Linked DNA regions of Homo sapiens: regions 1, 2 and 3 are each reported to be linked to region 4. The links are microRNA targets in miRTarBase. Many come from high-throughput screens and were not tested one by one. Region 4 holds a microRNA gene; each other region holds the end of a gene's coding sequence.
What was found. The annotated mature microRNA hsa-miR-4640-5p reads UGGGCCAGGGAGCAGCUGGUGGG and lies in region 4 at 1,371-1,393, shown strand. An mRNA with a match to its seed (bases 2 to 7 or 8) in the 3' UTR can be bound and repressed. Matches are read on the target gene's strand: a 7mer-m8 pairs with bases 2 to 8, a 7mer-A1 pairs with bases 2 to 7 and ends in A, and an 8mer does both.

Region 1: the mRNA of RALBP1 is a reported target of hsa-miR-4640-5p. Seed matches in the 3' UTR shown: 8mer at 2,211-2,218.
Region 2: the mRNA of EEPD1 is a reported target of hsa-miR-4640-5p. Seed matches in the 3' UTR shown: 7mer-m8 at 561-567 and 7mer-A1 at 528-534.
Region 3: miRTarBase lists MRPS23 as a target of hsa-miR-4640-5p. Seed matches in the 3' UTR shown: 7mer-A1 at 1,008-1,014.

What each region holds. Positions count from the first base shown.
Region 1 is chr18:9,535,587-9,538,699 of GRCh38, reverse strand. It overlaps RALBP1 (ralA binding protein 1), which reads right to left. Exons shown (of 10, transcript NM_006788.4): 10 at 586-3,029. The coding sequence ends at 2,763. Among named protein-coding and RNA genes, the nearest start is that of RALBP1, 62 kb to the right of the region's middle.
Region 2 is chr7:36,298,762-36,301,761 of GRCh38, reverse strand. It overlaps EEPD1 (endonuclease/exonuclease/phosphatase family domain containing 1), which reads right to left. Exons shown (of 8, transcript NM_030636.3): 8 at 224-2,755. The coding sequence ends at 2,556. Among named protein-coding and RNA genes, the nearest start is that of MATCAP2, 67 kb to the left of the region's middle.
Region 3 is chr17:57,837,226-57,840,338 of GRCh38, forward strand. It overlaps MRPS23 (mitochondrial ribosomal protein S23), which reads right to left. Exons shown (of 5, transcript NM_016070.4): 5 at 1-2,710. The coding sequence ends at 2,558. Among named protein-coding and RNA genes, the nearest start is that of MRPS23, 11 kb to the right of the region's middle.
Region 4 is chr6:30,889,521-30,892,633 of GRCh38, forward strand. It overlaps MIR4640 (microRNA 4640), which reads left to right and starts at 1,363; the gene lies at 1,363-1,452. It overlaps DDR1 (discoidin domain receptor tyrosine kinase 1), which reads left to right. Exons shown (of 18, transcript NM_001297654.2): 5 at 1,453-1,600; 6 at 1,860-1,959; 7 at 2,482-2,668; 8 at 2,776-3,022.

The sequences.
Region 1 (3,113 bases), not on the chromosome of region 4:
AGTACTCTTCCTGCTCTGCAAAAGAGCCCCTACATGTGGCATTTAAGGGCTTTCTGCCCCCTCCTCTGCCCAGGCTTGCTATCACGTCTCCTGGGTCTCCTGGGATCTAGTCTAGAACATTCCAGGGGGCACTGCCCACCTTCCCTAAAAGCTGTGGGATCTTATGCTGAAGCCTCTGCCTGCTAATTGACTCCGGCTTTTCCTTCTATCCCTCATGAGAACCATGGGCCAGGGCTGAGGCTGAACACATGGAATTGGGCACGGGTCCCCATCGAGAGCTCCAGAAAGCCCAGGCTGCATCTTGCTCAGCCTGGCTGGACGCAGAAGGTGTGTTTGTTCTTAAGATATCCTAATACATAACAAGCAATGTGCTCTTCACAGAAACAGCTGCAGTGAAAAAAAAAAAAGATCACACAGCACTAGAGCCCATCTTGGGAGGTGACCTCAGGTCTCACACCTCAGTATCTCCAGATCCCCAATGCTAAATGTACCCCATCAGGGCGTTTGAGACTTTCCATCAAGGAGAATTTAGCTATATAAATTTAACATTATAGATTTAACTACACAAAACAGAGAAGTCAGCTGTTTGTCTAAGCTTTCAATGACAGATATTTTAATTGTGGAATTTTTAAAGCAAACAAAGCAATGGAAACTTCATTTTTATTCTAGACCAGTCTATCCCAGACATGCTGATTATGGTTGGCTGTGCTGAGTCCTCATTTACCGTATGAAATGCAAATGTCTGTCAATTGCAATGCCTGGGGCCAAGCCAGGCCAGTGGACTTGTGTGCAGTTCCCACCGGAGCCAGGAGCTGCTCAGACAGCAGACCCAGCCCAGTCCACTGGGTTTTGCAAACACAGGCTCCCTCTGCAGCAGCATGGGCTTGTGGAAGGGAGGCATGCCGCCGCCAGCATGCATGCCAGGGGTCCGGGGTTCTCCCCGTGTCTGCAGAGGTGAGGGGTACAAAGTGAGCTGGAAACAAAACACTGTGTTCCCCCTTGGCCTTGAAGAAGTGCCTCAACCAACTCCTCGCCAGCTGCAGAGTACTCAATCTCCTCACAGAAAGAATGTGTACAAAAAAACTAGAAGCTTTTCTTTTTCCCAAATGGCTGTTGAATTTATTTGCTTGATCAATAATGGTCCTGGCAAAAATTAGTTAACCAATGCTGAGACATTTGTAATGAAATACTAATTTTAAAAATCCATGACACCTTGATAGAAATTAGAGTTTACACAAACAAAAAAGGAACCTTCGATATTGCCAGCAGCTATAAAGTGAACGTACTGAGACCGACAGGACAGCAAGAAGGCATTTGCACATTTATATCTGACACCCGACCATACTTTCAGTCACCAGAATATCTTCTCTCCAGATTTAAAAAAATAGTATGCTGATTTCTATAACAAAGCTTTTTTTCGTACAAAAATCAAATAATGGCCAACGAGTCACAACAGTGCAATAGGTAGAGGATTAAAAACTGCATCAAACAGGTGCTGAAAATAAATACTACCTAGGAGAAGGAGGTGAGAGCCCTCGTGTGGGGTTTGTTTTCGACCCCTTGAGTGTGTGTGGGGTTTGTCTTCCGAGCCACGAGCCTGGCCTGTCTCGCGGTGCTGTTCACTCTGACAGAGTGCGCCTGCAGCACGTTGCCTCCAGGGCCCAGCCTCCCAGAAGCCTCAGAGCATCAGAGCATCCGTCTCATCGGATGGACCAGAAACAAGAAAATGGGGTGGGGTGAATCACAGCTATCATTCAAAGGAAAGGAATTTTTTTCTATTGCTCAATCTTGTCAATTGGGAGTCCACCAGTAGGTTCACTGAGATGATATGGATAATTTCAAACTTTTGTTTAAGAGCATATATATGGCTTATTCAGGCAAGGAGACGTGTACATTCTAGCCCAAGCAAGCAATCGGAGTCATTCTGTTTTTAAGGAAGGTCAGTCGTTTAAAAGATTTCTGGTTTGAACAACATCCTCTGTGGATGCACCAGGCCAAGGTGACTACCTTTGACCAACCCAGTGAGAAGGCCTTTGCTGGTCCCCGCAGTGAGGAACTGGCAGGAACGGGCAGCCTCCTCCCCGCTGGACTGCACTGCCGGGGGCCGGTGGGCAGGCTCCACAGGCAGCCCCTGTCTGTGGCCAGACAGGCCGTCCTGGTGACTCGGGCTTATAGACTGTGGTTTAGAACTGCAGAAGGAGAGAGGAGAGTGGGCCAGGGAACACCCACCAGGCGCTGCTCTGACCAGTCAGAGAACGTGAGGCAGCTCCCCCATAGGGATCTGCACCGAGAAGGTGTGGAAGGCACAAGCAAGAGTGACGGTACCAGAGATCCCAGAGGGCGTGGCTCGCGGCGGCCACAGCAGGCGCAGCGCTGACCTGGGGTGGTTCCCCCCTTGAATGAGAAAGAGATCCTGATTCTGCTGTGATAAAAAAGCAAAGAAAGACGGTTTTTGGTTTAAAAAGAAGCCACTCAAGGGTTAAAATAGTTATTTTAAGTTAACAAAGAAAATTAATCTTCAAATAAGCTGACACTATCTGGAAAACTCATCTGTCCCTAAAGCCCACAATGCGTCCACTGCTTCGTCCTCCCATGGAACCTGAGCCTGACGTGAAGGAGTCAGACGTGTGACAGAGGAAGAGTCTGAGAAGAGAAGACACCTTTACAGAATGTACAGCGAGAGAGCCGGCCTGGCCCCCGGGTTACAGTAAGATGCACGGGTCCTTTCAGTCTCACGGACTCCAGACGGCCACGCAGGCTGCTCAGATGGACGTCTCCTTCCTATCCCTGCTGGGCGATGGCTTTGCCGGCTCCTTGCCTGCCTTTGGCTGCTCTTTAGCTGCTTTTGGCTCAAGGACGCCGTCTCTGGGCGGCTGGACGGCACCCCCGCGCCACTCAGGCTCCTCGTCCTCCTGCGCCTGCTGCTCGGCCTTGGCTCGCTGCATCTGGAGCAGCCGCAGCTGCACGCGCAGCTCGATGATGGCCTCGCGCTCCTCATGAATTGCTTGATTCAAATGATTGTTCTTTATCTTGGGGAATGACAGAAAGGGCAGTTATCACTTAAGGAAGTCAGAGGACGATTTCTCAGGAGCAGAGCGCGGTTAGCAAGGGCA
Region 2 (3,000 bases), not on the chromosome of region 4:
ATTTTGTACTTTTAGTAGAGATGGGGTTTCACCATGTTGGTCAAGCTGGTCTCGAACTCCTGACCTCAAATGATCTGCCCGCCTCCACCTCCCAAAGTGCTGGGATTACGGGCTCGAGCCACCATGCCCCACCACAAGGGCATTTTTACATCAGAGGAACTATTCTGAATGATTCTGTAGCATGGTGATACATGTCATTCTACATTTGTCAAAACCCATAGGATGCACAACACAAAGAGTGAACTTTAATATAAACTATGAACACTGTAGCTAATAATGAATACAAGTTCATCAGTTGTAACAAAGTGCCATGCTAATGCAACATGCTAATTAGAGGGGGAAATATGCAAAGAAGAGGAGGGATATGGGAATCCCTTTGTGCCTAATTTTTCTGTAAACATAAAACTGCTCTTACAAATAAAGCCTATTAATTAAAACAACAAAATACAAAACAACAACTAAAACCAAAAACAGCCAACACCCAATGGGTTGAGCTGGAGTAAGAACAGGCTGCCCAGCACACTTCCTGGGCCACTGAGCCCTGGGCGTGAAAAGCAAAAGGGCCAGTGAGGTTTGGCTGGGACTCAGCTCCCCAGCCTCTGGCTCAAGCCCGATTACGAACACAAAGGTCATCTGATTGGATTTCCTGTCCCCTCAGCTCACTTAAGGAGGCTTTTCTGTCCACAGCTTTGGTTGCAAAAAGCAATCTGGCTAAAGGGATTTGGGACATCCGGCTGGTGAATGTAGGGGAGGTTTCACCTTTAGATGAGGCACCAGAAACGATGTGCTCCCTGGTAGCATCCTGAGCTGCCCCTCTTGACTTTAATGCTAACCCTGCTGCTTTTCCTCAAGGCTCAGACATCCCATTTCGATGCTTCCAGAAGCACAGCCTGAACCCAGGGACAGGAGCTGCCGCCCTCCCACTGGAGAGACCTCAGAATGGACACAATTGATTCCCAAGTACCCTTAGAGCTCCTGGAAGAGGGTTCCCTTCCCGTCCCCAAGACCAGCGATGCTTCTTGGAGCCAGGTGGCCCCAAAAGGATGGCCTTTGGAGAAAAATAGGCCCCCTTCACGGCCCATCAGCTCCAGGTCAGAGAAGCCACTGGGTTTACACTGCGTGGGGACAGGAGGGTTCTTGATACTGGTCCACATTTAGTGTTCGGTGTGGAAAGCGGAATAAGTCCTCAGCTTCCATGGGATACTGGAATAATCTAGGTAATCTAAGCTCATAACTTACCTTTTCACTATTTACTTTCATATTTTTCCATTCATGTTAAGCATAAAGTTGAAATGTGAGCACATAGCAAAACCTGAGTCTGCATCCCTCTATTTACCCAGTGGTGTGACCTTGAGGAGGTCGAGCTCTCTAAGCCTCAGCGTCTTCAGCTGTGAAACGCAAATTGTGGCAGATCTCCCTGGGATGGTGTTGCCTAAGGGAAATCCCTCCTGGCTTGGGCTCGGGGATGCAGATGCCTAGTGGCAGGCACGCATCCTCGCTTCCTCCCCACAACCTCTCTCCAGCCCCACAACCAACTGTCCCTACCTCCAGCCACTAGGAGGGACACTCTCCATGATACCCCGAGGTCAACTTCCTATGTATCCTGACACAGCACACATTCCTGATAGTCAACCACAGGAGGCTCCGGGCTAAAAACTGGAGTGAGTGGGGAGGAGGGAGGAGGTGATACCACCCTGAGAGAATTCTTGTCCTGCAAAGAGAACTAAACAAATAGTGCTCCAGGCAAAAGCCAGGCTGGTGAAGGAGGCAGGGGATGAAGGAGGGGCTGGGAAGGGGAGATGACAGAGAGGCTTCACAGAGGTCCCGGCGAGCTGATGGGGCCTTGAGAGGCGCCTCTGCAAGGCCTCAAGGTGGGGACATAAAAGGCGCAGGGGAAGTGAAGCTGCTCAGGGCTTGACCCTAGCTCCACACAGAGGCACCTGCCGTGGTGCAAATACACACTGCGCGTTGGGGGGCGGGGGAAGGGGGCGGGGGAGGGCTGTGGCGGACTTGTCCCATGCTCTCACTGCAGCGAGGCAGGTTAATCTGTTTATTTTTTCAAAACAAAACTAAAAATCGCCACTCAATGTATCTGAGCAGAGTGCCTGATCACAGTTAAAAGCTTTCTGTAATGCGCAGCAGGAACGTCATAGCCTGGTGGTCAGAAATGAGTGCTTCTGGCGCTGCTGGACTGTGGCCCGCAGCCTGAGCACCCCTTCTTCTCCTCCCTCTGCTCATATTGTCTTTGTGCTGCCATCCAGTCAGCAGCGGACAGCCAGCCCAATGCTGCTCAGGTCTGTGGCATCCAGAGATAAAAGGCGTCTCCGCTCCCCGCAGGTTTCTGCTTTGCCCACCTGGTGGGGTACGCGCCTGGCACGCCACCCCCACTGGAGGTCCTGAATGGTCCACAGAGAAGGCGTGGGGCAAGGCCTCAAGTGCTGATGCTCTGAGAATAAAAATTAAAAGGCAGCTCTGCCCTGAAGCGTCACCCCACAGGGCTCATTCCTTGGCTGTGCCCTCCTGGGTCCCAGGGTGGACACATGGATTTGGTGTCATCATCGCTCGTGCTTGATGTTGGCTTCACTTCGCTCCAAGGCCACCCCGCTGCCGTTCCGAGGGGCATCCTTCTTGCTCCAGTCCTTTTCAGTGTAGAACTCGGCTAGCACTGGGCAGTGTTCAGAAGCCACCCCGCCCCAAGACCAGTTATCCGGAATCCAAGGGTTCGTGAGGCCTTCTCTCACCACAGCCCAGTGACCTGAAGGGAGAGGAAGGAAAGAGACCGGGAATCAGGATGGGGGGTTGGGTGCGGGAGGTCCTGGATTGGCAGGTGGAGGGTCACACCGCATGTCTGCAGGCCGGGGTGCCCGGAGAGGCTGCCTCAGGTAGCTGGAAGGTGCCTGTGCATTTGCCTGTGCATATTAAAGGTCTCGGCCAGTTTGATTTTCCACATAAAGGAGAGTTTCTGCATTTAGGCAGTGAAAACACCCAGAGGCCAGGCCT
Region 3 (3,113 bases), not on the chromosome of region 4:
CCAGTCTGGTTTAACAAGATCAGAATGTGTAGGGGAACGCATTCTCATACATTGCTATGAGAGTATAGTTAAGCACAATTTCTATGGACGAAGATATCAAAACTCAAAATGATCTGCTCCTTGATCCAGCATCCCATAACTCTAGCAGCCCATTTGCAACACAGTAAAACAAAGAACATTTTCTTCAATCGGGCACTGATTAAATCACAGTGGATCTCTGAGACATAGTAACTAGAAAAGCAAGGTACAGAACAGTATGCATAGTGTCCTGTCCATGCCCAAAATATTTCTGGAAGAGCGCACAAGGAAATGGTGATAGTGATGGCCTCAGGGAAGGGGAAAAGGGTGGCTGGGGAACAGGGGTGGGAGACTAGCTTTTTACTGTTAAGTTTTGAACCATGTGCATGTATAATTTTTTTAAAGAATTATGCAACAAATAACTTCTTTAAAAGTCTTCAGCCCCAGTACGGTCGCTCAGGCCTGTAATCCCAGCACTTTGGGCGGCTGAGGCAGGAGGATCGCTTGAGGCCAGGAGTTTGAGACCAGGCCAGCCTGGGCAACATAGCAAGACTCCATCTCTACAAAAAAAAACAAACAAAAAAAATGTTAAAGAGCCAGGCGTGGTGGCACATGCCTATAGTCCTAGCTATTCGGGAAGTGAGCCAGGATGGCTTCAGCCCAGGAGTTAAGACTGCGGCAGGGTATGCACCACTGCACCCAGCCTGGGTAACACAGTGAGACCCCCATCTCCTAAAACAAAATTAAAAAAAAAAAAAATTAAGGCCAGGCATGGTGGCTAACACCCGTAATCCCAGCATTTTGGGAGGTTGAGATGGGTGGATCACTTGAGGCCAGCAGTTTGAGATCAGCCTGGGCAACATGGTTAAAAGCCCGTTTCTACTAAAAATACAAAAATTAGCCGGGCGTCATAGCATACACCTGTAATCCCAGCTACTTGGGAGGCTGAGGCAGAAGAACTGCTTGAACCTGGGAGGCGGAGGTTGCAGTGGGCCAAGATGGCTCCACTGTACTCCAGCCTGGGAAACAAAGTGATACTCCATCGCAAAAAAAAAAAAAAAAAAAAAAAAAAAATTAAAAATCTACAGAGGAGGAAAACAAACAAAAATAGCAAAAATGGGACATCAATCCAGACATGAAGGAAAAAAACATTTTTTAAATATTCATCATTGTGGCAAAAAAAACCTGCCCTTAAAAAACCAGAAACCTAAGGTTTAAAGAGATGAGTGACCCCTCAATTGTTCCTCTGAGAATAGACTGTGTCTTTCACCTGCTTTTTAAGTCCTCTTCCCAAGGTCTGGCCCGATGTTTGGTCTCAATGGTTGTGTAATGTCTCTGAATGGATGAAATTTACTTCCCTACGGAAAAGTAAAGCATTCTCCAAATGCAAGCAGTTGTGAAACAGTGATAAAGGTCGAGGGGGAAGCAGCATGGCTGAGAGCTGCTTTTGCCTAATGTATTCATTCACCTGCATGAACCAAGCACCCACGTGCATGGATGTGTACTATATACAGACTGTGAGATGTGGACCTGCCTCACAGTGTACCAGGAGAGATGAGAGCATACACAAAGAATCACTGGGTAGAAAATCTACATGAGTTTTAAAATAGGGAATTTCTGAAGCAGCTTACTACTAACAGCTAAAAACCACTGGCTTGACCACATATACAAAGGCTGCAATCTCAGAGGGATATTTCATGTATTTAGTAAAACCTGGGGAAACGAGGAAGGCAGGGAAGTTGATAAGGACTTGTAGGCACACTTTGGCCCCAGGGAGGCAGGTGGATGCTGGTGGAGAGCATCACCTAAATTAGCTGCCTCCTTTCTTGGCAATCCTGTTATCTACACCATATGAATCCAGTCTTTAGCTGGATATAACCATTCGTTCACTCATTCATTCAACAAGTATTTACTGAACAGCCTAGTCTGTGCAGGCCTATGTTAACTGTCTCCAGCACACTCAATCCATGACATTAAAGTTACAGTTTTGGTCTTTGTGTATCAGCAATGACAGGTCCTCACTCTTACCACAAAGCGCAAGTCAGCTTGGCCTCTCAAGTGGAGAGATAATCGTTCTATAGCAAGAAGTACAAAGATTCTCTGCAGACAAAACCAGCTAGCCAAGGTTCCACAACATGTGTACACGTATAAGTCTGATGGATCAGAAGAAATATGTACCCGGGAATCAGATGTAGCCAGCCCACATACTAACAAACATCAAAGCAAGCCTAGTCAGATTGAGTCCCATTTGAACAATCTTTATAAAGGTTTCTTCATGTTATTTACAATTCAAAGTAAATTTACTTTATAAGCAGCTAGGGAATTCTTTATTTAGTAATGTCCTAACATAAAAGTTCACATAACTGCTTCTGTCAAACCATGATACTGAGCTTTGTGACAACCCAGAAATAACTAAGAGAAGGCAAACATAATACCTTAGAGATCAAGAAACATTTACACAGTTCAACTGTTTAAAAATAGCTCAACATTCAGCCAGTGAGTAGAGTGTGAATGCCAGCATACACAGTATACAGGTCCTTCAGGGAGGCAAGAGACCTTTCGACTGGTCTGCAGGTGCCTCCAAATGCTGGTCCTGTGGAACTTCTTTCTGAGTCTCGTTTTCTTCCAACGCAGTCTGTGGTCTGACACTCAAGTGTTCGGATTTCCGGGAAACGTGACTACCTCCGTGTTGCTTAAAAGACCAGATTTAAGTATCACAGAGATGTTATCATTTTCACTCAATTAATTCGCTAAAGATATATAACTAGGCACATTCTGTCACTGAGTGAAAAATTTAGCACTAATATCTTAGATCCAATTCTACTATAACAAATAGTAAACATGATTTTAAAAAGTCTATAGGGCCGGGCGTGGTGGCTCACGCCTGTAATCCCAGCACTTTGGGAGGCTGAGGCGGGCGGATCACGAGGTCAGGAGATCAAGACCATCCTGGCTAACACGGTGAAACCCCGTCTCTTCTAAAGCTACAAAAAATTAGCTGAGCATGGTGGCAGGCGCCTGTGGTCCCAGCTACTCGGGAGGCTGAGGCAGGAGAATGGCATGAACCTAGGAGGCAGAGCTTGCAGTGAGCCAAG
Region 4 (3,113 bases):
AGTTTATATCATCTCCAGACTAAGCCTCTCAGCTGAGCTCCAAACAATATTGTAAACCTGGCCACCTTTTGGATTTCTCCACTTAGATGTCTTTTTTTTTTTTTCTAATAGATGGGGTCTTGCTGTGTTGCCCAGGCTGGTCTTGAACTCCTGGGCTCAGTGATCCTCCCACCTTAGCCTCCCAAAGTGCTGGGATTACAAGCACTGTAGCCAGCCACCTAGATGTCTAATAGGCATCTCAAACGTACGTTTAACTTCCCAAGCTGAATTTGATTCCCATTCCCAGCCTAAACCTGCTCCTCCCCTGGCATTCTCCAGCTCAGGAAGTGGTATCACCATTGCCTGGTTGCCTAGGCTATAAGTTAAGATGATATCCTTGATTCCTTTTTTTCTCTCACCTCCTTCCAAAGCATCAGCAGCCCCGTCTGTTCTACCTCCATAGTGTTCCTGAGTCCAGTCACTCCTCACCACTCCACCTCTACTGCCCTAGGCCACCTGCCCGCCATCTCCAGCTTAGATGAGTGCAGTAGATGCCAAACGCGTCTCCCTGCTTCTGCCCTTTTCTGCCTGGAGTCAAATCTCCACCTGGGGGGGCGGCATCCAGTGGACCTTAGAGCATGTAAATCAGATACGTCACACCTAGCTGACACCCCCATGCTGGCTTTCCACTCTGCCAGAACAAAAGCTGAGTCCCTAGCTGGTGCAGGATGCTCAGCCTGACCTGGCTCCTGCCTGCATCACTTGTTTCTTGGCGCCTCCTTGGCCACGCTGCCTTTCTTCTTGTTGCTGGAACAAGCCAGGGCTCGTTCCCACAGCTTCTGGACATTTTCTCTGTGCCTGCAAAGCTCCTCCCCTAAATAACCACAGGCTCTCCCTCACTCCATTCAGTTCTCTGCCAGGTGTCACCTCCTTAGAGAGCCTTTTCTGGCCACCCACCTCACTGCTCTGTCCATACTTCCTGCCTCTTGTTCTTCGCAGCTGTTTTCCCTGCTGGGATCTCAGTCCTACAAGGGTGGGGAGTGACGTTCACCACTGAGAACGCGCCTGGCACAGAGCGGGCACTCAGCCAACTTCTGCTGAATGAACAGAGGGAATGGGCTGAAATGAAGGGGAAGCTGAGGCAGGGGTGCAGGGCTGTGAGGATTGGGGAGAATCTGGGCACAATGGGATGATAGGCTTGGAGACAAATGGATGGAGCCAGGCAAGGAGAAGAGGGCAGCTGAGCCTGAAGTCTGAGGATGGAACATCAGAGCTGCGACAGAGCCAGAGGTCTCAGCTGCAGATCTTCATTTCACCCATGCCTGGCTGCGCCCCACAGTGCTGTGTGCTCGGTGCCACCCCTCATGGGTCTCTAAGTGGCCACTGTGGGCTGGGCCAGGGAGCAGCTGGTGGGTGGGAAGTAAGATCTGACCTGGACTCCATCCCACCCACCCCCTGTTTCCTGGCCCACAGGTGATCTCAGGCAATGAGGACCCTGAGGGAGTGGTGCTGAAGGACCTTGGGCCCCCCATGGTTGCCCGACTGGTTCGCTTCTACCCCCGGGCTGACCGGGTCATGAGCGTCTGTCTGCGGGTAGAGCTCTATGGCTGCCTCTGGAGGGGTGAGTGGCTCAGCTTCCTGGGAATCTGTTTCCTGAGCAGGGGACTGGAGGGTGGGGAGTGTGGAGAATGGGCATCCAGGATCCCTTCTCCTGCTGGGAAGCTGTCACTCTGAGGAGGGGGCTAGCCAGCATTGTCTCCTCCATGCCAATGAGCCAGTGGAGAGATACAAGAAGGGACCTGAAACCTGCCCAGGCCTGATGCAGGGATGGGGGATGGAGCCTTAGTGCCTCTGACCCCCATCCTCTCACCCTGCCCCAGATGGACTCCTGTCTTACACCGCCCCTGTGGGGCAGACAATGTATTTATCTGAGGCCGTGTACCTCAACGACTCCACCTATGACGGACATACCGTGGGCGGGTAAGAAAGGCCCCTGCAGGATATGGAGTTTGGGGTGGGAGGGAGGACTGTGTGTGTGTGTGTGTGTGTGTGTGTGTGAGAGTGTGTGTGTGTAGGGGGGCTGGTAAGTAGGGTGGGGAGTGAGATGGAAGAGCTGAGAAGAGGGATGGGTTAGGTGGGGCCTCAAAGGGTAGCACTAGGGTGACCACTAGCCCGTATGACACTGTATGAAAAAGGCACCCCTTTGCTAACACACATTGTTGGAAATTGCTGCAATAAATATACACATCATAGATTGAAATGGTGCCCCTTAGAGGTGGTGCCTTTGTGCTGGATGTGACCTGCAAGGTACCTGTAGTGCTGGGGTGGGGTGGAGAGAGGAGAAGGGCCAGCTGCATGAGTGTGAGGTGGGATGGGAATGGGACTAGTGGATGGGAGCCAGGCTGGCCATGCCACTGTGCCGGAGGGTGGCGGAGCAGAATGCCTGGATGTCAAGACCCTCTTCCCTTCCAACCTCCTCTTCCTTGGTCCCCTCTTCTCCAGACTGCAGTATGGGGGTCTGGGCCAGCTGGCAGATGGTGTGGTGGGGCTGGATGACTTTAGGAAGAGTCAGGAGCTGCGGGTCTGGCCAGGCTATGACTATGTGGGATGGAGCAACCACAGCTTCTCCAGTGGCTATGTGGAGATGGAGTTTGAGTTTGACCGGCTGAGGGCCTTCCAGGCTATGCAGGTGAGTGAGTCCGGCTCTCGAGGAGGGCTCTGAAGCCATGCAGGGTGCCGTTGGGGTGCCCCCACCACTCCTAGCCTTGACCCTGTGCCCTCTTCCCTTCCCCCCAGGTCCACTGTAACAACATGCACACGCTGGGAGCCCGTCTGCCTGGCGGGGTGGAATGTCGCTTCCGGCGTGGCCCTGCCATGGCCTGGGAGGGGGAGCCCATGCGCCACAACCTAGGGGGCAACCTGGGGGACCCCAGAGCCCGGGCTGTCTCAGTGCCCCTTGGCGGCCGTGTGGCTCGCTTTCTGCAGTGCCGCTTCCTCTTTGCGGGGCCCTGGTTACTCTTCAGCGAAATCTCCTTCATCTCTGGTAAGCCCTGGAGTAGCCCAGTCTCCAGTCCCTGAAATTGACAACTGATTTCATTCCTAACCCTGCAGTGTCCCTAAAATACTCATTCCTT